Homo sapiens: one gene and its partners. The protein of the gene in region 3 purifies or fractionates together with the protein of the main gene of each other region. This does not show direct contact. Each region holds a gene or a part of one and is shown on either strand. Other genes may lie near its edges.

Region 1 (3,500 bases), on a different chromosome or scaffold from region 3:
AACTACAGGAGATCAGCTCGGGAAGCAATGAGGCAAATGGCAATGCAGGTGCGAGAGAGAGTGATATGGTTTGGCTGTGTCCCCACTCAAATCTCATCTTAAATTGTAGCTCCCATAATTCCCACATGTTGTGGGAGGGACCCAGTGGGAGGTAACTGAATCATGGGGGCAAGTCTTTCCCGTGCTGTTCTCATGATAGTGAACAAGTCTCACGAGATCTGATGGTTTTAAAATGAGGCATTCCCCTGCAGAAGCTCTCTCTCCTTTGCCTGCTGCCATCCATGTAAGACGTGACTTGGTCTTCCTTGCCTTCTGCCATGATTGTGAGGCTTGCCCAGCCATGTGGAACTGTAAGTCCAATTAAACCTCTTTCTTTTGTAAACTGCTCAGTCTCGGGTATGTCTTTATCAGCAGCATTAAAATGGACTAATACACAGAATAACCACCATGTGCAACTGTCAAGACAGGGAAGCCACCTTCCCACAGGGCCACGTTGATAGGGCACCCAGCTCCAGGGTCAGATACCCCTCAGCCATACCAGGCAGGCTACTGATGATGTCCTCAGGGCTGAAGCCAAGTGGCATCCAAGCCCCTAGCCTAGGAAGCCACACCCCCAAGGACCATGGTCGTGCCTGACACTGCAAAGGTGTTCTATGTTCTCCTAGGGTCCAGGCAAGAACAGAAGTCCCTGCAGTAGGGCTGGAACCTTCTAGAGGTGTTTGCTTCCTCTAAAAAGTGTGTGTGTGTGTGTGTGTGTGTGTGTGTGTGTGTGTGTGTGTGTGTGATGTCTTTGCCACACTGGATCACGCTATCTAGACTATGACCACCTGACTACCTAGGTCTCTTGTGTCTCTCTCATCCCTGGGGTCTCTACCCTTCCATCCCAGAAGACCCATGTGGGTGGTGGGGAGAGAGAAGTGGAACCATCACTAGCTCAGAGTGCCTTTGTGCAAACTGGAAAAGGGCTCTTCCCAGAGACTCTTCCCTGTGTCAGACTCATCTTGTAAAAGCAAAACATTCAACTGTGTCTCTTGGAAATTTGAAATAATACATGTACAAATCTGTGATGTCTGTGATACAAATCGCACCCCCTTCTACAGAATGCATGTGTGTGGTACATGGTACTGGAATGCTCCCAGCCAGATGCCTTACCGACTGCGGTTAGTGATGGGAGTCTCATCCTCAAAGAGCCACTGCAGGCTCGGGGGTGGCTGGGCTGAGAACTGGCAATGGAACATGGCCTCCTCATACCTCGCTACTACCACGTCCTGGGGTGCCAGCACCACCCTGGCAAAGCTTTCATCTGGAGAGGGAAAGATGGGGGAGCATGCAGCCTGGGTGGTGAGGCCCTCCTGTGCTCACCTCATCCCTTCCGCCCCCACCCCAGGCTCACCAGCAATGCTCAAGGTGAAGTTCTGGCTGCTGCAAGCCTGGCCAAAAGCACTGTGGGCGCAGCAGGAATACAGCCCACTATGCTCAGGACCAGCTGGCCGGAGCGTCAGGTTCCGCTCCTTGCTGCTGACTGTGTGGTTGCTCTGACCATCAGAAAGGGGGGTCCCATCTCGGAACCATTGGTAGGTGGGCCTGCAGGGCAGACACAGTCAGCAGTGGTGGGGAGGGGTACTCAGTGGCCAGTGGAGAGGATACAGTATCAGAGGGTCAGGGCTAGACCTTTCAGTTTATACATGGAGAAACGGCCTGAGGAAGGGAAGGGACTTGCAAAAGGGCACACAGTAATTCTGATTCAGGGGCAGAATCAAGTTGATATTAGATCTCCCAGCTCTACACACAATGTGGCTCACTCTTCAGGCCACCAGGGGCCGGCATAGGGCAATATCTGGGGGAGGGCAGGGTGAAGAGCACTGTGGTGGTGGAACGAGTGGTCACAGAATGGAGCGAGGTAACATCCGCATAGAGTCCAAGATTTGGGGAGACATCCCTGTCCGGAATAACCCTCTTCATCCCCACCTCCCTGACTCCTTACCGAGGGTGCCCATCAATGTGGCAACGAAGTGTGACCTGGGTCTGTGGCTGGATCTCAGCTTCCGAGGCTGGATGCTTCAGGACCACAGGACCTGCCTCAATCCCTGTAGCAGAGGCCACGGTTGCAGTGAGGGGCAGAGCAGGGCAAAGGCGGGAAGGCAGAGGGCAAGGAGGACAAGCAGGAAGCCGTGGAACCTCGAGGCTCTGTGCCAACAGACACAAGGAAGCCCTGGAGGCTGAGGCTGGGGCTACAGTTACCAGATACTAAGTGCCTGCCTGGTCCCTGGCAGGTCAAGTCTGACACTTGGCCAAGGGCTCGGCCGCCCTTTCCATTTGCACAAGCATGCAGCAGATAAATGGGTCCCAGACTTGAAGGAAAAAATTTTGGAAAAAATATAACTTTTAATTTCCTCTTATCCACATGAGCAAAAAAAGCTGATGATAAATGCATTCTGCCTGGCCCGTTTAACTGGAAATGGGAGAAGCTGAGGTAAGGGAGGGATCCCCCAGGCCTCAGTCATTGAGGGTCTGACAGGGGGACTGGGCACAGCCCCCCTGGCTCTCACATTTGATGTTGAAGGAGGCGTTGGCACTGCGGGCTTCTTCTCCAGTGACATCATCCCGAGCCACACACTGGAAGGTGCCAGAGTCCTGCAGCCGGTCCACAGCTGCAAAGCTCAGGCTGCTGCCCTGGGCGAAACGCCGCTCCGTGTCCTGGACAGGGGCCCCATCGAGCAGCCAGTACACATGTACCGGGCCCGGAGCCTCAACCTCACAGCGAAGCAGCGCCCGGCGCCCCTGCAGTGCATCCTGGGAGGACGGCTGCTTGATGAAGACAATGGCTGTCTGGGTACCTGTAGATGCAAACAGGGGAGAGGCAGGGTCAGGGGGAGCTGCAGCCTCTGTCCTAACACAGGCCACCTTGTGCACAGGAGGAAAGGGGCTGTGTACACAGGAGGCGTCCAGTAAGTGCAGGTGTGAAGGATCATGATGCCACAATTGCAAGAGTCCCCTGAAAAACTTTTCTTTTTCTTTTTGAGATTTCTTTTTCTTTTTTTGCTCTTGTCACCCAGGTTGGAATGTGGTGGTGTGATCTCAGCTCACTGCAACCTCCACCTCCTGGGTTCAAGTGATTCTTCTGCCTCAGCCTCTCGAGTAGCTGGGATTATAGGCATGAGCCACCACACCCAGCTAATTTTTGTATTTTTAGTAGAGACAGGGTTTCGCCATGTTGGCCAGGCTGGTCTCGAACCCCTGACCTCAGGTGATCTGCCCACCTCGGCCTCCCAAAGTGCTAGGATTACAGGCGTGAGCCACCACGCCCAGCCCCCTGAAGAGCTTTTCAACTGTGCTGAGTGCTCTGTAGGATACAAAGACACAGTAGCCTCTCCTCAAGAGGTCTGAAGACTAGAGGGGCACACAGAACACAGTTACAGTCACATAAATGCCAAATGAATGGGGTGGGCAGGCAGTAGTGACTTGAGCACGAAGGAAGAAGGGACCCCTAAGGGCTGGCT
Region 2 (3,500 bases), on a different chromosome or scaffold from region 3:
AAGAGCTACCTAGGAACAAGGTATATGAAAATATATGAAGAGAGACTTATTTAATATGCTTTATGATTTTGATAGCAACAGTATAAAAACTTGGTCATTAGAATCATGTGCCCATGAGTAAATGACCCTAACATCACCTAGTGAATGTCGGAGTTTGGAAAATAGTCAGTGTTCACTAAATCATTTATTGTTTCCGTAGGATAGACTCCCAAGGCAATTTTGCATGGTAATCATAGAATAAGTTTCAGATAAGTTTCTGGCTGCAGTTTTGCCTCAAGAATAGTGTACTTACAGTCCACTTGCACATCCTTGGGTGTTAGCACCTCATGAGTTTTTAAAAAATGGAAGAGAAGAGAATATAATAGTTCTTAAAATAACAGAGATGAATCATTATTGCAGCTAACACTTAGAGTTACCTAATATTGGATCATACCTTGGTGTTACTCAAGATGTTCAACGTGTATTTCCTAAGGTGAATGTCTAACTATGTTTAGTTTCCTCATTGTGCTATTTTGACCTGTAAAATGGCTTTCATCACACTGGTCAGGAGATGGCTCTTAGCAAAGTGATCATATTTCTCCAAGGCTACAGCTACCATCAAGTCTATTCCAACCATGAGCAAATTTCTTCCTTGATCATCAGAAATAAGATAAAAGTAGAAATAACTCTGTTCACCCCAAATGCTTGTATTATTTGCAGGCATAAAATTGTCTTTTAAACAAATAAATATCATTTTTGAATGATAAATACACAGAAAATTCTATATTTAATCATTGCAATATAAACTCTTTGTTACCTATAATTTATTTTCTCTACCAAAGTTACAGCTTTCAATAAGATGTTGAGATGAAAATTCATTTATGTCTCCAAGACCTTGAATTTCTCGCTTGGATTTTGGCACCACTTAATGATTTATTATAGTTTTTTTCTCTATTTTATATGTCCCAAAAAGTAATAGCAGGGATACATTGCTCTTGGTATATTTGATAAATCTTGACAGGCTCTCACTCATTTTCTAAAGTCAAGAAAACTTTATTTTCTTCAGTTGAACTACCCACAACTAACTACTTTATACTTCTTAAAATATGTGTTCATCTTATTGATACATACAAGTCATAAGTTTTGGAAATTTAATGTCAATATATTATGGCACTTGCCTCAACTGGAAGATCAGAACTAACAAAATTATTCTTATTTCCATTTTTTTCTGATGGGAAAATTGGAAAACTGACTTATTGAAATAGCATCAAATAAATGCGTTTGCTTTGTCTGAGGTCTTGTCTACAGCAACTCAGTTTTACTGTGTATAGTAGATGTTAATAAATGTGTTGAATGAATGAATGCCATTTGTGTACTTTATAAATCTTAGCAGTATAATATTTGTCCTCTCAGACCATTTGCATCAAGCAGTTTACACACCAAAAAATAAACAGTTTACAAAAACATTAACATGAATCTGATGCTTGAGGTTTAAAAATATACATGCAGCAAAAAATAGGCTACTCAACACATACCATTATCAAAATATCTGACAGTTGAATTTCTGGATACACTGGGATCGAAATTTGCCATTAAAGGTGCTATGTACTGTGTGGCTGTTAGCATTCGATGTACGACTTCTCCAGTGTATATGAAACCTAGAATTAGAAAAATAGGAAACATATTCAGAAAAAGAAGCCCATATAAAATTATGATTAAAATACTTCCAACTCAATTACAGTCATATTATGAAAATAAAATGTCATGGTAGCTGGAAAAAAAGGAACATATTTAATATCTTAGTATCTAATTAACAATACTTGGTCTGGATTAAGTAACAAATTCTTGTATAATTTGGTAGAACCTTGCAAATCCGAAATCTATAACATGTACAATTTTAATTGGGGGGAAAGTGACCATTATCTGGATGAGATTATTAGGCTAAAAATGCTAATACAGTATTATAAGTAATTCAAATATTCAATTTGCTATTATTAATCCCTTGTTATTTTAACAATAGCTTACCACACAAGTCCTTTTAATTAGTGAATTCATTTTCATGGTATTTATGTAAGCTACCATCTCAGCATAGGAATTTTAGAAACGACATCTGGTAAAATGCAGAAAATGTTTTGATTCTTTTTTTTTTTCTTGAAAGTTGAAAGGGGGCTAAACACCCATGGTGACGTTTTCAAATTGTTGGTTTGCTCAAGCCTCTATATTATCAGCACACTGTCAAGAAGATAAAGTCTATATGTTTGCAGGTAAGGTGGTAAAACATTGACAATGCACAAATGCCTCTCTATTTAGAGATTTAATCAATGCCAGTCTATTCTAGCAGTTGGATAATGAGAGGGAATTTATTATGGAGAACTTTGGCTTTGAATTAACTTTCAATAGCTCCTATGTTACATGTCTAACCCACTTTCAATTATTCACACTAGGTTTATTTACTTTGTGGATTATCCATGACAAATTGTTAATCCTGTGCTGGCTTCTTGCTTTCAAGGTCTTTAGCTGTCTGAAAGGAGAGTCAGCTCAGGGATTGCTAACTAATTTTAATATTAATCTAAGAAATACACAATTGAGATTACACATGCAAATGCACACACACAAATAAAATGCAAGGCAAATTATTTGTGACAATGCAATTGTAATGTTTGGGCAGTCATCAGTTAATTAGATACCCGACACTAATATAAATCATTTTTCTACTTTCACAGGAATTAATAAGATAATAATATTTAAAGCTCAAAAAATGTTAAACTTTGATCACTCATTTTATGGTCTGAATAAATATTTCATTGGCAGATTGCAGTCTTCATTGTTTCAAATTCAAAATTGTGATGTCTAGGTAAGTTATTGCAGAATTAAACCTGTAGTTATTTACTTAGAAATTAATTTCTCTCTTTTTGGCAATATCTTCTTTCCTTTGAATACCTTTTAACTTTTCATCAAAAGCATAATTGAACTCTAGCTATTCATCTAAAAAAATTTTTAACTGTAAAAATCTTCAATGTGTACTTTTATCATCATGACTTTTTGTTTCTTATGTGACTCCTTGTTTCTTATTTGCCAAGCACTATCTTTCAAAACAAATACCTGATGCTTTAAGCAGAATTTTGTACATTTGTAATTTCACACAGCTCAAGCATATTAAACATATTATGGTGATTTGGTCATTGCTTTTATTATATTTCCTTCTAGATTTTCAGAGTCATACTCCTAATATTCAAAGTGCAATATTACATCCTTAACATTATAAATATGAAGAGTAACTCTTTTCCAGGGTCTCTATTTTTTCTCCTATCCTCTCCAGCATGCATTTATAATTTATCATTAGAATGAATACAAAAATTCTATAGATACCATCTCTGAAGAGAAATGTTTGAATTAGACTCTGAAAGTGTTATTTCAGAGAAAATAGCTCCAAGTAGGTTATTTTTCTTCTTTATATTCTCCAAGTACAAATAGAAGAAACTGCTTAACTTGGAGGATGGAGGGCAGTTATTCAAGGAAGG
Region 3 (2,935 bases):
CTTGATTGGCTATGTCTACAGCCTGGGCCAGTTCCTCCTGGCTGGTGTGGCCTACGCTGTGCCCCACTGGCGCCACCTGCAGCTACTGGTCTCTGCGCCTTTTTTTGCCTTCTTCATCTACTCCTGGTGCGTGGGGCCTAGGGTTGGAGGTGGTTGCCACAGGAGCCCAGAGGCTGCAAGGGACAGGACATCTCCCAGAGCTCAGCACACATCCCATCCCACAAATGTAGAGAAGGTCAAACCCAGTCCAATGCCTCTGTGTGACAGATAGGGAAACCAAGGCTGTGGGGAGAAGGCTTTGCCCCAGGATATCCAATTCTCTGGCTTCCCCCACTCCGTTCTCCAGCCTGCCTGCTCTGCTCCCCCTACCCGCAACCAAGAGCTGAGCTTCTGGATTGGGGAATATGTCATTACCAAGCTGGGCACTGCCTCGTGGTCCTAGAGAGAGGGATTTGGCAAGGCCCCTGGGTTCCCAACCTTAAATAAAATCCCATCGCAGACCCCTAGAAAGCCCAGCCCCAGCCCCCCACCCAGCTGACTGGAACTGAAGCCATGCTGACACCCACCCCCACCCCCGCTCCCAGGTTCTTCATTGAGTCGGCCCGCTGGCACTCCTCCTCCGGGAGGCTGGACCTCACCCTGAGGGCCCTGCAGAGAGTCGCCCGGATCAATGGGAAGCGGGAAGAAGGAGCCAAATTGAGTATGGAGGTGAGATCCCCTGAGACTTCCCATGATAACCTCCCAGGGCTTCACCCCCAAACCCCAAACCCAGGACCCAGGGCCCAGGGAACTCCTCTAAGTAAGGGATTAGGCTGGGAGGAGCTCCTTGGGAGGATCCCGGGCCCTGAGCTCTGCCGGTCCCAGCAGGTACTCCGGGCCAGTCTGCAGAAGGAGCTGACCATGGGCAAAGGCCAGGCATCGGCCATGGAGCTGCTGCGCTGCCCCACCCTCCGCCACCTCTTCCTCTGCCTCTCCATGCTGTGGTAGGCCCAGAAAGACAGACAGACTGAGACAAAAGGCTGGCTGGGGCAGGAGGAGACACAATGGGTGAAAGAGGCCAGAGAAGAGGGCAGGAAGGTCAGCAGACCTGCTGTGAGAAGCAGTAACCCCACACTAGGGATCATCCTTAGGAACCAGATGCCCCCAGCCTTGACTCAGTCCCAGTCTCCACACGGGACACCAGTCTCCCCATCTTGTCCTTTCACTAGCCCTGTTCCAATGTGGAGACACCTCATCAGGACCAGTGGGCTCCAGAGTCAATAGACTTACATCATGAAGGCAGAGACCAGTCTGGCTTGCAAAATATTCATAGATTTTACTGGCCTGATGGTGCCTGCCAGAAACACAGGCACAGGCAACAAGATGACTAAAACTCATCTCCAAAGAACACTTTGGCCAAGGCCAAAGAAAATCTTCCTTTCCCTTTGCAACACTCCCCATTATCCTTCCTTCCCATCACCATAGCAATCCCATGACAGTTAAGGGAAACATAGTCAGAAGGAACAATCCTGCCAATGAATTATTTGCTTCCAATTTGGGATTTATTCTCAGTCATGGGCTCTAGCCAATAATCTTGAGCTTCGTTTTTTGGGCTCTTGACATCTTAAAAAGCACAACACTCATCCCAGGACCATGGACAGGTCCCAGAAGGCTCTCTCTACTCTCCCAGCTGCCTTGGCCCTGAAGATGGCTTGGGTATGCACCTGCCCTCCCTCAGTCCAGCATCAATTGATAAGATGAAAACTAAACCTATGTAAATCCTACAGAGCAACTAAGTGAAAATTCCCCCAATTAACTGCAACCCTAGTTATCAGAAGATTGGCAAATTTGGAGTATTACAGGACTACCTCAATACTTAAACTCTGCAGTTTAATGATATGGTTAAATGAAGAAATATTAGCCAAGGCAGATTCCAGCTCCTTAAGCAGGGTACCCAATGCAGTTCCCCCACTGTTTTGAAAGAGCACCCCACTTTAAGCCTTCCTAACAAACTCCATACTCCTCTCTTCTCTCTGCTAGGTTTGCCACTAGCTTTGCATACTATGGGCTGGTCATGGACCTGCAGGGCTTTGGAGTCAGCATCTACCTAATCCAGGTGATCTTTGGTGCTGTGGACCTGCCTGCCAAGCTTGTGGGCTTCCTTGTCATCAACTCCCTGGGTCGCCGGCCTGCCCAGATGGCTGCACTGCTGCTGGCAGGCATCTGCATCCTGCTCAATGGGGTGATACCCCAGGGTGAGCACCCACGAGCACCTTGGCCCCTTCTCCTCAGCCCCATCCCCACACATAACCCAATATCTCAGAAGGGAGGGGGCCAATTCCTCCTAGCCTCCACTCCCAAGCTCCTGCTATCCCCCCTTCTTTCTCTCTAGACCAGTCCATTGTCCGAACCTCTCTTGCTGTGCTGGGGAAGGGTTGTCTGGCTGCCTCCTTCAACTGCATCTTCCTGTATACTGGGGAACTGTATCCCACAATGATCCGGTGAGTGGGAGCCTAATGGGAGAATGACAGCCTTTTCCTGGGGAAAGACATTCTTCTGTGCACAGGTCAGACCCCAGAGCTAAATCAAGTACATCCCAGCCCAAAGGCCCCTCCCAACACTCATCATTGCAAGGCACATAGTAGCCACTGAGTACACACCTCATGGCCTAGCTAACACAGGTGTTACTGTCCTCTAAGCCCTTACGGGACCCTAGAAGATCTCAAAAGTAGCCACCAACTGGGGCAGGGTAAGGAACCAAGAAGACACATCTCAGAGACAACAAATTGAAGTCTTCCTTTAATCTCCAAAACACAAATTAGAAGCTGCCACCACATCTACATTCCATCTATAAACCAAGTGATATATCTGAAAGCAAAGGCCACAAACATGAAAGCAATTTCCTATCTCAAGATTCACTCCTGATAATATCCCAGCAATAGGAATAAATATAGTA
Region 4 (3,918 bases), on a different chromosome or scaffold from region 3:
AGACAGTAGCATGTTAACATCACTGCATTGAGTTTTTGTCTGGTGTAAAGTATGACTTTTAATGTAAACAAACTGCAGGTTTTTTTCAAACTAATTTTAAGAATTTAGTCTTATTTCGTTGTAAACTGTGTATCTAATTATATTACATTACTCTGTTCAGATGGGATGGTTACTACCACTTGTCCATGATTTTCATTTGAAAAGCAAGTATCTATATCATTTCCCCCCAGTCAGCATTATTTAACACTCCCCTTAACTGTCTTTGAACTTTCTCTTTTAACAAAAATGTCAAGTCTTTATAGTTGTAATATCACCATGTTTCCCATTTCTGTTAATACTTCTATGAACCCCTAAAGTATTGAAGGGAACTAGCTGTCAGTTTCAAGGATTACAAGTTTGAGTCTCCTAGTATTCAACATCATTCTGAACCCTGAAATAATATTTTTCTCTGTTAAACAATTTTTATCTGTTTGCCACCTCTGTTGTTAGAGGTGGTTGTCAATTGACCTTACTAAGTTAGCTGTCTTTGATGAGGAATTATTGTTATTGGTTCCTGAATAAAACATTAACCTTTTAAGTCAGAAGGAACCTCGGTACTTCTTAAGGTTTGTTTGTGTTTTCTAAAACCAGAGAATAAGGAACTGATTTGGCTATGAGGTTTAACATTATAATTTTCTGTAAGCTTTCCCACAAAAAAACATTGTTGATTTGAGGATATAATAATGTTTTAATCTTTTTAAAATATAAGTGGTTATTCTCTGACTTGGTAACTATGTTCTGAAAACACTGCATTTAAGAATTTTTAAAAATTGGTTTTCTAAAATTAAAATGTCCAAATTAGGCATATTGCTGAGCTCAAATTGATGTGAAATGCCATGGTTCCAGTTGAATTTTAAGCATATTTTCATTTAGATATAAAATATATGAAGTATGCTTTGTTGATTATAGTGAGAACCCATGACATAGTTAACCAAAGAATATGTTTGGTTCAAATAAAAATAGAAGCTTAATACTGGGCATTCATACTTTTTAAAGAGAATGAATGAAGAAATCGGTTTCCTGCTGTAGTTCTCTATGGGTAAGTCTTAGTAAAGACGAGAATGCTGAAGTCGGCCGTGGCGATTCCCTCCTAGGAACTGGGAGGTGTGGCTTGCCCATTACCCGCTTGAAGCTCACATCTTTACCCTCCTCTCCCACTGTGGTTTGATCTTCACCTATTCCCAGGCCCTCCCAGCAATTGGAGAGGTGTCTTTTTTTTTGGTTTTGGTTTTTTTTCTCCCCGTCTGCATTCTTAGGCCTCTTAGCTATTAGGAACTGTCAGATACATACTAGTAGCTAATTTTCCTAGCCTGAAATTATATACTGCATCTGCACTATGTACCTACTAGGGATCTGACCTCAAGTGTTTTCTGAGCCCAGGCTTCCTGGTGTGGTGTCTTTTACCACATAAAATTATTACAAATTGCAAATGTTGGTATTGTGATTTGATTATCTGTACAAAGAAAGAAGCTCTATGCAGTGAGTTTGTGGTTTAATGGTCACAAAAATGTTAGCACTGCTACCACTCAGCACGTGTAAAATTTTTTAAATTTATAAATATTAAAATTTTAAACTTACACTAAGACTTTTCAGTTTTATTTAAAGACCCAGGGATGAGTGTACTGTTTAAATATTTACCTCTATTAACATAACTAATGAAGGTATAAAATTGCATTTAGTTTTTCAGAAGATGCTGCAATATGATTTTAGGAAATAAGGCTATGTATTGAGCCAGTTATAGGCTGAATATCAGGTTGATAAAATTTTATTTGTATTTTTAAAATTCATAAATGGGAGTTAAAATGTGTCTTTTCACTAAATATTTTTATTACATTTTTGTTTTGACCATGTGTGATTTGTTCATGGGTATTTAGCTAGACTCTTTTATGAAATGCATTGAAATGGTGCTAGTTTGTTTACCATTATAGGAAGATTGACACTGGGGACATTACACGGTCCTAAAATAATTTTAAATTTAAAAAAATGAAGACATCTGTACAGATAAAAATCAAGATTTGCATCACCTTCTGGGAGAACCCGTGGTACTCACAGAATATCCAGTATTAGAAATATAAAAATTTTGTCTATATTTTATAATATTTATCTCAGCCCACAGTCTTAGAAACAGTTTCACAGTTACTAGTTAAGTCATTATCTTTGGTGCATATTTAGTAAATACTTTTAGCAAGTCATTCTTTTTGGCCTTTCAGGGAAAGTGGTGAATTACCATATTACTGTGTGCTAGATAGATCCACCCTTTGCCCAGTGTTAAATCTTGTAAACATATGAAGTGAAAAGTTAATTTTTAAAGAAAATGCATCTTTAAAATGTTCATTTTTAACCTGAATTTGCTTTGAATATTCTTTGATTTGTAATGTTGTTATTTAGCTTATATTGAGATTTATTCCACTCCAAAGGTGGATAAAGAAAAGTTGTTTAAGAAAACCAATTAGAGTGTATTTTGAATTTTTGTTTCTTTCATTACCAAGTGTGGGGCCATACACACAGGCTAATCATCTGTCATTTGAGACCCACAGATGATTTCAAAGGTCCCAAATAAATACACATCTATAACTGTTTTTTAAAAGACATCTTTAATGGTGCTCTCCAAAAATACAATTCGGTTGCTTATGAGTGATGCCTTTGACAGGCTGATTAGATTATAAAACAGTTTTGTTTTTTTAAACATAGGGTCTCAGATTGAGTCTTGTGCATTCTATGTAATCTCAAATGGCAGTTCAGTTTGACTTTCTTTTAAAACTAAGTGGAAATGGTATATTTGGTGAAACTAATGAAAGAATCTTTTGCTGGGAAATTCCATACAGCACCCCCAGCAGCATCCTGTCTCAGTCTGGCGTATAATTCAACCTCCTACTGAGTGTCCCTGTAAATTATTTTTAATATATAGCATGAGAGTGAACTGAGGTAAGTCATTGATGTTTCCCAGAGATGATGAATGAACAAAAGCAAATAGGATCTGCTAAACATTTTTATTCCCACAGTAGTGAGCAGTTTTGTTCTTGTTTTGATAATGTTCATTTCTGCCTAATCTTAGGCTTCAAATACACCTTTAAGAAAGCCCAAGATGTATTGAGTAGTAGAACTTCTTATTTGTACACCTGTTTATAACTGCACTGCCCTGGATGTTATGGTTATTTCTAAGGACTGACCTGGTAAAGCTACTTGAACTGGTAGACTGCAGGGTAGAGGCAGACCTAGATTCAATGTCTAACTAAGCTGCTTAGGGCTTACATTAATTTCCACAGGTCTGTTATCCATATCATGAGTTTATAAGTGTTCCTCCCAAAGAAAAAATTTAAAAGTGATGGATGAAATATAATAGTAGATGCTCAATAAATTCCATTGTATTTAAAGATTATTTCTGAAAACAGATTTCATTTCATTAGACAAATGTATCATAACACTAAGTCTGATACCTAATAGTCAATTGCTTTTAAATACATGCTGTAATATCTTCATATTGATACTACGTTATAGCCCTAACCACAACCACCCTAGGGATATTGGGGTAGACTTCACCATATTATTTACTGTACTTTTTTTTAAAAAATGAGAAAATGGATCTATTTATGTTAACTATCTTAGTCTGTTCTATTTAATTCAACTATCTTACTCTGTGCTATTAGAATACCTGAGACTGAAGAACAGAAACTTACTTCTTTCATTTCTGGAGGCTGCCCTTTGACTTCCATCATGTGGAAGAGGCAAGCAAGCCATCACCAGATGGTGGCGAGAGAGAATCAACTCCCTCCTTCAAGCCCCTTTGTAATGGGACCTAATTTTATTCATTAGGGAGGAACTCTCTTGGCCTAATCACCTCTTAAAGGCCCCACCTCTTCATACTGGCACATTGGCAAC
Region 5 (3,500 bases), on a different chromosome or scaffold from region 3:
TCTTGGCTCACTGCAACCTCTGCCTCCTGGGTTCAAGAGATTCTCCTGCCTCAGCCTCCTGAGTAGCTGGGATTACAGGCTCCCACCACCACACCTGGCTAATTTTTGTATTTTTAGTAGAGATGGGGTTTCACTATGTTGGCCAGGCTGGTCTCGAACTCCTGACCTCAAGTGATCCAGCAACCTTGACCTCCCGAAGTGCTGGGAATAGAGGTGTGAGCCACTACAACCGGCTGCAAGCAGTACTTTTAAATAAGCTTAACTAATATTTGTCTATAGAGTACTAGCATTTATGAAGTCAATACTGTACAAACGGTGTATATACTTTGGTATTTAGTTTTACCTACCGTTCCTGCAGTATCCAAGATTTCAAGCATACACTGTTGTGCATCTACTTCAACTTGCTGGTAGAAAAATTAAAATACATGTTCATTTTTTCAATGTACATAAAACTACCTTAATATACACAAAAAAGCTAATGTATCAAAAATAAGACACACAGATTTTAACAACTTTACAAACTAATATCCAGCAATACTTCAACAAAGCAGGAGGAAAAATAGCTAAGTAATCAAGATTCAAAGACCCCCAAATTGTAATCAAGTTCAAAAGCCATGTGTTCTCAAGTCAACACAGGGAAACCTACACGAACCAGTCTCAATATGGATTCTCAGCACTTAATTCTAGAGAAAAAAATAGTTTCGAAATAGCTCAAATAAACAAACAAAACCAGCAACAGTTCCAACAGTATCATAAGTAATTCTGTCTAAATTCTCCCATGATACTTTAGATATACCTCATTTCTCTAGGTAACTATATGCCCTCACCATACTGGAACAAGATTTCTGGAATTAAGGAAGCAGTGGCACAGCTATTAAATAAATTACACATATATCCCTGTTACCCCTTTCCATCTAATATTTCCTAGGGAAAAATAGGTATTTAGAATTAGATGTAGAAAGAAAAGAGTAATACTGTCTCACAGCTGGGGTGCAAAAGTTTCCAGTTTTTTTTTTGGTAGACTATGCACATGGAGGGAGGAATGGAAACACAGTATTTGTGCAACAGCGGGGCCAGGTTGGCTGCTTCATAGAGGTTGGGAAATACCTCTTTCCCTACTAAGTTAAAAATGTCTACACATTGTTTTATTGTCACATGCTGTTAGTGGACACAGGAATTCACCTTTCTATAGGCTGAGCATCCCTAATCTAAAAATCCAAAACTTGCAATGTTCCAAATCCAAAAGTTTTTGAGCCATGTGTGGAACATCACGCTACAAGTGGAAAATTCCACACATGAGCTCATGTGACCAGTCACAGTCAAAATGCAGCCAAAACTTTGTATCATGCATAAGAATATTAAAAATATTATGTAAGATTATGTGTATGAGGTGTATATGAAACCATGAATTGTTTAGATGTGGGTCCCATTCTATTTCATTATGTATATACAAATATTCTAAAATCAGAAAATAATCTGAAATCTGAAATACTTCTGGTCCCAGTTATTTCAGATAAGGGATATTCAACCAGTATTGTGAGTGGTGGCACTTTCTCAAGAGGTTAGTAAGTAGAAAGCTTAGGAAGACCTGTGTCCACCTATTTCTAGGTTAAAAAGAAGGGAGCTTGAGAGTAATCAGTCTTGCTAGGTAGGGGACTGAAAGTAACATGGGGCTACTACTTGAAATGGATGGTCTGCTTTAAAGTTTATGTGTCAAATTACAAAAAATTCTGTGAATATGTGAGAGTATGGGTGTTTATGATCCTCTTAAACTGGTAACTATGCAATGCCAGAAAGTGTAAACTTTTCCCACTAATTTTATAAATTAACTCTGCCTCCATCCTTTGTATAAAACATTCAATAATTATAAAGCTAAAATAAGTATTTATATTAAAATCAAAAGCAAAAGGCCTTCCAAAGTAATATATACCTTTCTATAAGAATCTTCTATCGTAGGATCGTATTTTTCTACAAAAATTCCTTGAACAAATTGTACAGTCTGAAAAAAAAATTAAGAAACCATTATACTTCTAAAGAAAAGAGTACATTCAATCTTTAATGTAATTGTAAACTGAGTTCACACAGGGAGTTACACCATCAATGAAAAAAAAAACCACAGCCAATACTACATTCGAATGTGTACATTTGGTAAGAAAATTACCTCAGGAAGCTGTTTATTTTTAAATAAATAATCACTATGCTCCTTATTGGGTAATTCTAAATTTAGAGATCATATATTAAAAAATTTTAAATGTCTCTGGTTTCAGTCCTTTGTTTTTTTTCTTTGAGACAGAGTCTTGCTCTGTCTCCCAGGCTGAAGTGCAGTGACGCAATTTTGGCTCACTGCAACCTCTGCCTCCCGGGTTCAGGCCATTCTCCCACATCAGCCTCCCGAGTAGCTGGGATTACAGGCATGCACCACCACACCTGGCTAATTTTTATATTTTTAGTAGAGACGGGGTTTCACTATATTGGCCAGGCTGCTCTCGAACTCCTGACCTCAGGTGATCCGCCCACCTCAGCCTCCCAAAGTGCTGGGATTACAGGCGTGAGCCACTGTGCCGGCATTGTTTCAGTCTTAAGAGCTTAAATTTGATTTTTAAATTAGAAATTGACTAATTGTTATGTATACACACATACATGCAGGATCAACTGACCTCCCCATCACTTTGGATACAAATGAAAAAGCAGTTCATTTCACATTGTATGTACTTCTCAGTTTGTTCCAAGCATGACACTTCTCAGCTAGGTGGCCTTTCTAAGTGGCCAAGATGGTTTATCTTATGAGTGAGACAGAAGGTCAATCTATTTGCTTGTGAGGCTTTGCTAAGCTCTGAACTATTCATCAAATTATTTTCCCTACGTTTTTCCTCTTTCCCAACCCTCATTACCCAGTTATGTCTTCATTCTTGCTATACCATTCCTTGATGCAGAAAACGTGCCGTTAAAAAATGTAAAGCTGGACAGTCAAAGGTAATATTTGAAGACTTTTTATAAGCTTTGATATTTTCTAACATAAAATGTACAGGGTAAGACTATTCATAAGAAGAAAGAGCAAGCCAGGCATGGTGATTTATGCCTGTAATTCCAGCACTTTGGGAGGCAAAGGTGGATTACTTGAGGCCAGGAGTTTAAGACCAGCCTAAGCAATATAGCAAGACGCCATCTCTACAAAAAATTTTAAAAATTAGCCTGGCATGGTGGCACGTGCCTGTAGTCCCAAGCATTCAGGAGGCTGAGATCACTTGAGCCCTAGCCTGGGCAACAGAGTGAGACCCTGTTTCAAAAAAATAAATAAATAAAAAGACCAAAATTTATTCCTATCTGGCTCTGAAATGCGAATGCAAAAAGACATGTATTTGTACGCTCTCAATCTCTGTGCTTAGCTCAAATTGTATTCCAGCATAACTCGTGTCATTCTGGAGTCAATGTTCCAGAGAGAATATGATCCACCCAGATATAATTAAAAGTTGAATAAAATTACAAGAAAAATATTATAT
Region 6 (3,500 bases), on a different chromosome or scaffold from region 3:
CTGAGGCGGGCGGATCATGAGGTCAGGAGATCGAGACCATCCTGGCTAACACGATGAAACCCCGTCTCTACTAAAAATACAAAAAATTAGCTGGGCACGGTGGCGGGCTCCTGTAGTCCCAGCTACTCGGGAGGCTGAGGCAGGAGAATGGCGTGAACCCAGGAGGCGGAGTTTGCAGTGAGCCGAGATCATGCCACTGCACTCCAGTTTGGGCAACAGAGCGAGACTCCGTCTCAAACAAACAAAAAAAAAAAGTGGGTTATAACAGAGTTTGCAAGTGGGGTCCACTGACTCCTGAGGGCCCCATTACCCTTTCAGGGGCTTGACAAGTTCAAAATTATTTTCCTAGTGATTACTAAGATATAATTTCCTTTTTTCACTGTCTTGACATTTTCACTAATGGTACAAAAGCAATGGTAGGTAAAACTCCCAGCTCATTAGCACAAATTGAGGCAGCACCATCAAACTGTATTTTCGTACTTACAGTAATTTTTCACCTCATTTACCCATAGAGAGAAAAAAGCAACCTTCATATAGTAATATCCTTGACAATGAAGTAACAAAATGTTAATTTTATGAATCCTTGACCTTTGAGTACACATCCTCTTTCTAATTAATATCCTGTGTGTTACATAAGGAAGTAAGATTGCTGTCATGAGGAAAGCACTTGTATGATAGAACTGCAAGCTAAACTAGCCACTTTTTTCACGGAACATCATTTTTACTTAGAAAAACTCATTGACGGACTATACCTATTCACTTTCAGGACAGACATATTTTAAAAAATAAACAAAGTGAGATTGTTGATTAAAACAAAAATAAATAACAGTATTTACTGTCAATGATAAGTTTGAATTTTCAACTAAAACTCAGAATTTTGGAAAATCTATATGCATCGTCAAGAGCTGACAATACTTATAGACTTTTCTAGTGAGATCAGTAGTATTTTTAATGAAGATGATTTTTTGATATTTTATAATCAAATGTTTTAACAACAGGAAGATCTATGTAACTCAATTGGTCAATATTTTTCAAATAACTTATGCACAATTACATGGAATCAGGCATAAGTAAAAATATCTATTCAAGATGCAGTATAGTTAAATGGATTTTTTAATGTAACAAAGTATAAAAAGTTCACTAAAATGATTTCTGATTTCACATTGCAAATAACCTTTAAGAAACTGCGACACAGTGAGTTTTGGTGCAATTGCAAAGAATACCCACAATTATCTCAAAAGAATATAATATACTCCTCTCCTGCTTTCAACTATACATGTGTACAAGACTAAACTTCCTTGCTTCTTTCAAAAACCACGTGATGCAACAGATTGACTGCAGAAGCATACGAGAGAAACTGGCTCTCTCCTATTATGTCAGATATTAAAGATATTTGCAAAAATGCAAAATAGTTACTTTCATAAAAACATATTATCTTACTAACAGGTGTTATTATTTTAATGAATTATATAGATGCATTGAAATTTTCCCAATTTTAATTTCTGAAATGGTAACTATCAATAGATATGACCAACATAAACCAAAGTTATTTAGGATCCTCAATATTTTTTTAAGACTTTAAAGAGGTTTTGAGACCAAAAAGTTTGGAACATTTCACATGAAGTAACAATTACCTGGTTTCATGTCATTTATGTGAGTTCTGCCCTTCATATTAGGGTCAGAAGTATTGCTTCAAAAGATCACAGAAATTACATTTACCTGACATTGGCGGCGTAGAACAATGCAAGGATGTGCCAATACATTTTCTGTAAAGAGACTATATAAAAATAATTTATGTATATGTATGTCTACATAGAGATAAATTAAATTTACAACAGGTATCTTTCTGAAATTATTCTTGCCTGAAGAATCATGCATTATTTTATGTTTTCCATTCTTAAACAAATTAAATAGATCTTTAAAAATGTCTAGAAATGTTTGCAAATGATTCTACCCATAACGAAATTCAATATGAAAAGAATGAAAACCAGATCTGCATACTAGTAAATAAGGGAAACAATACATAATACATAATATTAATGTCTATAGTATAAGATGAAACTAGATCTCTGAATGTTTAATGTGGGAAATGGCACATCAATTAAATGGCATTTAATGCTGCAAATTATTTCTTTCAGAAAATGTCCTAATAACAGAATTCCTATCAGCAGAGTCATTTGATCTTCATGAACCCCATTCTAAAAATGTTTGGTTTTGGTGCACTTAAATTATAAGGTTTAAGTATAAATTTAAGTATAAATCTTAAATTATAAGATTCTTAATGACCATGTTAATTGACTAATATTTATGTATCAAATATTTATTTTGAGAATGTGCCCCACAAAACAATTACAGCTGTGGGTTTCAGGTCTCAGAGTGACATATACATACATGTGCACACATATTTATATGTAATAATAGTCTATCAAATGAATCAAAGCTTTAAGTATAAATATTGAAGCAAAAAACAACTCCAGCAGAATGGAAAACACAGATTTTATTTATATTGACATTAACACCCTCGGGTTTAATTATGCAAATAAGGTGTTTTTCTTCGTTAAAATGTTTAAAATAATGATCATTATGGCATGAAATGTAAGCTTTGTGCAATTCCAATATTTTTGAAAATGGTATTCACTAAGGATCACAATAATCAAGACTAAAGGATTTTCTTAAAATGATCGTTAGATATAAAAAAAAGTAATGCTATCACCAAACGCTGATTATGAACAAAATCTAGATGCTATGTTGCTAAATATCTTGTAAGCATTAGAGTGTTTAGAAAGAAGCCTCCATGCACAATTACTTTTTTGATGGGAGACAGACAGATTACATTTCATTTTATTCTTTGGATAGACCCATGAAAAGAATGAAAACCAGATCTGCAAACAGGTAAGTAAGGGAAACAATATATAATACACAATATTAATATCTACGGTATAAAATGAAACTAGATCACTGTATGTTTGATGTGGGAAATGACACGTCAGTTACATGGCATCATTAAATGCCATGTAATTTTTCTTTCAGAAAATGTCCTATGAAAAAAGTTCTTATCAGCAGAGCCATTTGATCTTCATGAACCCCATTCTAAATTATTATTTTGATGGGAGAGAGATAAGATTACACTTCATTTTATTTTTTGGATAGACCCATGAAAACAGTTACAATACTCATTACAAAATTACTTTGTGTTTATAAAATTGGATGACTAGTCTATCCTTACTGGAAAAACTATCAAATTATATATTTTAAATAATGGTCATTTTTTTTCTGCAAAATATTATTCAAAATTTAAGCTGCTGCTTCAAAGAAACAACCTAAAGGAAGCAATAATAATCATTTAATATTGTAAATTAAAGAAAAACTCTAAATTCAATAAATAAAAGCTGTAAACGTCTTTAGATAAAACATTACCTTGCAAGTCCAATACCAAATCCAGCAAATCTATTCAGCTGTTCTAAAGTAAAAAAAAATAGAAATAAAAAAATAAGATTACT
Region 7 (3,500 bases), on a different chromosome or scaffold from region 3:
CTCAGTTGACTTTCAAAAATCTTAACAGTCTAGTGACCAGGCACGGTGGCTCATGCCTGTAATCCTAGCAGTCTGGGAGGCCGAGGCAGATGGATCGGGCAGATCGCTTGAACTGGGAGTTCGAGACCAGCCTGGGCAACGTGGCGAAACCCTGTCTCTGCCAAAAATACACAAAGTAGCTGAGCATGGTGGTGCATGCCTGTGGTCCTAGCTTCTCGGGAGGCTAAGGCAGGAGGATCACTTGAGTCTGGGAGGCAGAGGTTGCAGTGAGCCGAGATCATGCCACTGCACTCCAGCCTGGGTGACAAAGTGAGACCCCATCTCAAAAAAAAAAAAATCTTAATAGTCTAGATATAGAAAAAAGGTGAAAATTATACATATATAAAATGTTTGGGGGGGGGGTTACGTGCATTGGAACTTTCACATAAGGGGGTTAGTGACAATCAGATTTATGTAAGAATGATGAAATGTTTGAAAAATTCTGTGATGACAGATAAACATTATACCATAAATTTGTTGAAATCATAACACAGTTCTAGCTTTTAGTTTATGTTCTGTGGATTTCTTGTGTGTGTTTACGGGTGTTTTTATATATGTATGTATGTATGATTGTTCCTCCAAATCACCCACCTCATTCTGGATATTTACTAATCAGATTAGGTTTAGCTCTACTAGAAACTTACCCTTAGAGTGAAAAACTACTTGATGCCAATGATGATCTGCGGGATAAAAGCGAAGCAATGAGAGACTGCACAAAAGGAGACCGCTCCAAAAATATTGCGCAATGATGGAGTCACTGGGAAAAAAAAGACTGTCTACTGCAGGCAGAAATGTACACTCCTAAGCTAGAGGCTAATTGTTTGAATAAATATAGCATCTTAAAATTTCCTTTCATAAATAAAACATAGTGATAGAAGAAAGATGAAGCCCAGGAGTGCTATGTGAGCACTTAATCTGACACGAAGGAGAAAATCACAGAAAGAAAGCCTTCTTATAGAGAAGTCACCTCATTCTCCCAAGAAGCTAGGACCACAGGCATGTGCCACCATGCCCAGCTACTTTTTGCATTTTTAGTAGAGACAGAATTTTGCCGTGTTGCCCAGGCTGGACTCAAACTCCTGAGCTGGAGTGATCTGCCTGCCTCAGCCTCCCAAAGCACTAGGATTACAGGCGTGTTCTTCTGGACACTCATGCCCTCTGTCTGCTCTGTATGCCTATTGGGTGATTTGCTCTACTTGCCAGCTTTGCTGTAAAAAGACGAAAAAAAAAAAAGGGGCAGTAAGTATAACTGCTTATGCGAGTGTGCATTTTGGTGGAGGAGTTTTATAAATGATAGACAAAATTCCCCTTTAGGCTCTATTTAATCTTTCAGATAGTAAATCCAGATTTGCCCCCAGATGTAAGACGTCATGTGACTAGTAGCTTGTGACTGTGTAAGTCATCGGTTTCACTTTATGTATGGATAGGATTACACGCAGAGGTGAAAGGTGAAACGCTGGTTAAGAGTACAAGTTTCAAGTTTGCTCTGTGCTTCCATACAAATATAATAGAAGCAGCTTCTGTAGAATTTCCTTAGCAGTAAACCAGACGTGTTCCAAGAGAATAACAGTAATAAAAAAATTTAGGTTAAAAATCTTAGAGTTAAGGCTTAAAGTACTGCCTAAATGTCACTAAGGTACACTTCTGAGCTGGCCTGCAGCTAACTTCAGATCTGACTTTTGCTTGAATTGCAGTCATCCGAATTTCACTAGGAACATAGGCAAAAGATAACTTTTGCAAATAAATTTCATCATTTCACCTTTATGGCAAATAATGGATTTCTAATATGAAACTTTAATAATATTAACATATGGGAATTACATTAACATGTGACTAGTTACACTATCATTGGAATTTTAACCAACTGCTTCCAAATACAGTTAGAGAATTTTATAATTATTTGATATAATGGGGATAGCTGGGACTGAATGTCACTTGGACATTCAAAAGATCAATACTTGAATTAAAGTTAACACTTATCTTGGGAGTGGAGGTAAAAAATAAATAAAAAGCTTGTTTCAGTGCTATGAAAGATGCCTGTAAATAGCACAGCTGTTTTAGGTTTCTTGTTGTCTGAGAAAGGGTTTACAAATAAGGAAAAAGGCTACAATGAACCTCATAGCATTGGATTGGATTAGACATTAATATGAGCTTCAGGTTTCATATGTGTGTGTGTGTAAGAGTATATGCATATATATATGTGAGTGTGTATAGATATATGTATGTACACACACATATGTGTAAACAGATAAAGAAGTTGATACAGATGCATGTGTGTATACATACGTTTATTTACTAGCCATACCTGCTGAGAGGGCTTAAAAGGAATGACACCACAGAACCAATTAACTTACCTCGTGCTCAAAATTCGGTTTTTAAATATCATTCTCCAGTAAAAAGAATGGGAATCTCTAGAGAAATGCCTGATTTTAGGACGGGTGGAACAAGTCAAGTAAAGATGTGCCTGAGATATTTTGTTGTGCAAGAAACTAAGGAAATGCTTACAAAATGATGGGGACATGTGACAAAGATACAGGATACTGCCATACAAGCTCCAAACATGTAAGACAATTTGAGCAACAAACTAAATAATTACTGTAATGGGTTCAACTTATAGAGTAAACTAATAATCCATGATAAAAATGAACAAATGAATAAAGAAATGGGGGAGAAGGGAACCTCTTTCTTTTTTTATTTTTATTTTTTTATTATACTTTTAAGTTTTAGGGTACATGTGCACAACGTGCAGGTTAGTCACGTATGTATACATGTGTGGAACCTCTTTCTAACAGTAGAATTCCAGCTAATAAATGTAGAAGGAATGGCAGAAATAAAAAAGTCACCATTAAACACCACAGTGATGATTGTTGTAGGGAGGAATTAATTGATGATAACATTAGTGGGGAAAAGTGCGGTGAGAAACAGGATATTTACATATTTGCACTAAGTACAAAGGGAAAAATAATAACTTTTCTGTGGAGAAACATGGCAAAAACAACTTGAAGCAGTGTGCTTCCTGATAAACTGTGCAGGGTACATCACTTGTGTTTTATTTCTGCCAAAAATACATACGTTGAATTTAATGATAAGGAAACATCGAACATCACAGATGGAGGTATATTCACCGGCCAGTGCTCTCTGAGAGTGTCAAGGTCATGAAAAGCAAGGAGAGTGAGGAACTGTTCGAGAGTAAAAGAGACCAGGGCGACAACAGTGAAATATAGCTTATGATCCTGGATCTGAAATAGGGCATTGAGATAATTGATGCAATTTGAGTAAGCTTTTTAGGCTAGCACTGATACAACACTATTATGTAATTTCCTGATTTTGATAGTTGTATTCTGGTTATCTAAGATGTTAACATTTGAGAAATATGTGTGAATGGTAGGAATGTTTACTTTTTTTGCAATGTTTTTGTAAATCCAAAATTATTTAAAAATGAACAGTTAAATATATTTAAA

The links.
Region 1: the proteins of SLC22A6 (region 3) and PTK7 purify together in Homo sapiens (affinity purification with mass spectrometry; one large-scale study listed by BioGRID and IntAct). This does not show direct contact.
Region 2: the proteins of SLC22A6 (region 3) and PLXDC2 purify together in Homo sapiens (affinity purification with mass spectrometry; one large-scale study listed by BioGRID and IntAct). This does not show direct contact.
Region 4: the proteins of SLC22A6 (region 3) and XPO4 purify together in Homo sapiens (affinity purification with mass spectrometry; one large-scale study listed by BioGRID and IntAct). This does not show direct contact.
Region 5: the proteins of SLC22A6 (region 3) and RAP1B purify together in Homo sapiens (affinity purification with mass spectrometry; one large-scale study listed by BioGRID and IntAct). This does not show direct contact.
Region 6: the proteins of SLC22A6 (region 3) and SLC25A46 purify together in Homo sapiens (affinity purification with mass spectrometry; 2 studies listed by BioGRID and IntAct, with this or other methods). This does not show direct contact.
Region 7: the proteins of SLC22A6 (region 3) and RAB32 purify together in Homo sapiens (affinity purification with mass spectrometry; one large-scale study listed by BioGRID and IntAct). This does not show direct contact.

Annotation. Positions count from the first base shown.
Region 1 is NC_000006.12:43,128,314-43,131,813, reverse strand, and holds part of PTK7 (inactive tyrosine-protein kinase 7 isoform a precursor), read right to left. Parts: intron 2,838-3,500; coding exon 2,550-2,837; intron 2,088-2,549; coding exon 1,985-2,087; intron 1,585-1,984; coding exon 1,394-1,584; intron 1,304-1,393; coding exon 1,153-1,303; intron 1-1,152. UniProt on the Homo sapiens protein: Inactive tyrosine kinase involved in Wnt signaling pathway. Component of both the non-canonical (also known as the Wnt/planar cell polarity signaling) and the canonical Wnt signaling pathway.
Region 2 is NC_000010.11:20,141,432-20,144,931, reverse strand, and holds part of PLXDC2 (plexin domain-containing protein 2 isoform 1 precursor), read right to left. Parts: intron 1,638-3,500; coding exon 1,515-1,637; intron 1-1,514. UniProt on the Homo sapiens protein: May play a role in tumor angiogenesis.
Region 3 is NC_000011.10:62,979,033-62,981,967, reverse strand, and holds part of SLC22A6 (solute carrier family 22 member 6), read left to right. Parts: coding exon 1-126; intron 127-584; coding exon 585-708; intron 709-864; coding exon of another isoform or gene 865-867; coding exon 868-983; intron 984-2,019; coding exon 2,020-2,234; intron 2,235-2,371; coding exon 2,372-2,480; intron 2,481-2,935. UniProt on the Homo sapiens protein: Secondary active transporter that functions as a Na(+)-independent organic anion (OA)/dicarboxylate antiporter where the uptake of one molecule of OA into the cell is coupled with an efflux of one molecule of intracellular dicarboxylate such as 2-oxoglutarate or glutarate.
Region 4 is NC_000013.11:20,776,829-20,780,746, reverse strand, and holds the end of XPO4 (exportin-4), read left to right. Parts: 3' UTR 1-3,418; downstream 3,419-3,918. UniProt on the Homo sapiens protein: Mediates the nuclear export of proteins (cargos), such as EIF5A, SMAD3 and isoform M2 of PKM (PKM2). In the nucleus binds cooperatively to its cargo and to the GTPase Ran in its active GTP-bound form.
Region 5 is NC_000012.12:68,648,899-68,652,398, reverse strand, and holds part of RAP1B (ras-related protein Rap-1b isoform 1 precursor), read right to left. Parts: intron 2,000-3,500; coding exon 1,931-1,999; intron 405-1,930; coding exon 348-404; intron 1-347. UniProt on the Homo sapiens protein: GTP-binding protein that possesses intrinsic GTPase activity. Contributes to the polarizing activity of KRIT1 and CDH5 in the establishment and maintenance of correct endothelial cell polarity and vascular lumen.
Region 6 is NC_000005.10:110,742,007-110,745,506, reverse strand, and holds part of SLC25A46 (mitochondrial outer membrane protein SLC25A46), read right to left. Parts: intron 3,461-3,500; coding exon 3,418-3,460; intron 1,778-3,417; coding exon 1,720-1,777; intron 1-1,719. UniProt on the Homo sapiens protein: Transmembrane protein of the mitochondrial outer membrane that controls mitochondrial organization.
Region 7 is NC_000006.12:146,550,333-146,553,832, forward strand, and holds part of RAB32 (ras-related protein Rab-32), read left to right. Parts: intron 1-3,500. UniProt on the Homo sapiens protein: The small GTPases Rab are key regulators of intracellular membrane trafficking, from the formation of transport vesicles to their fusion with membranes.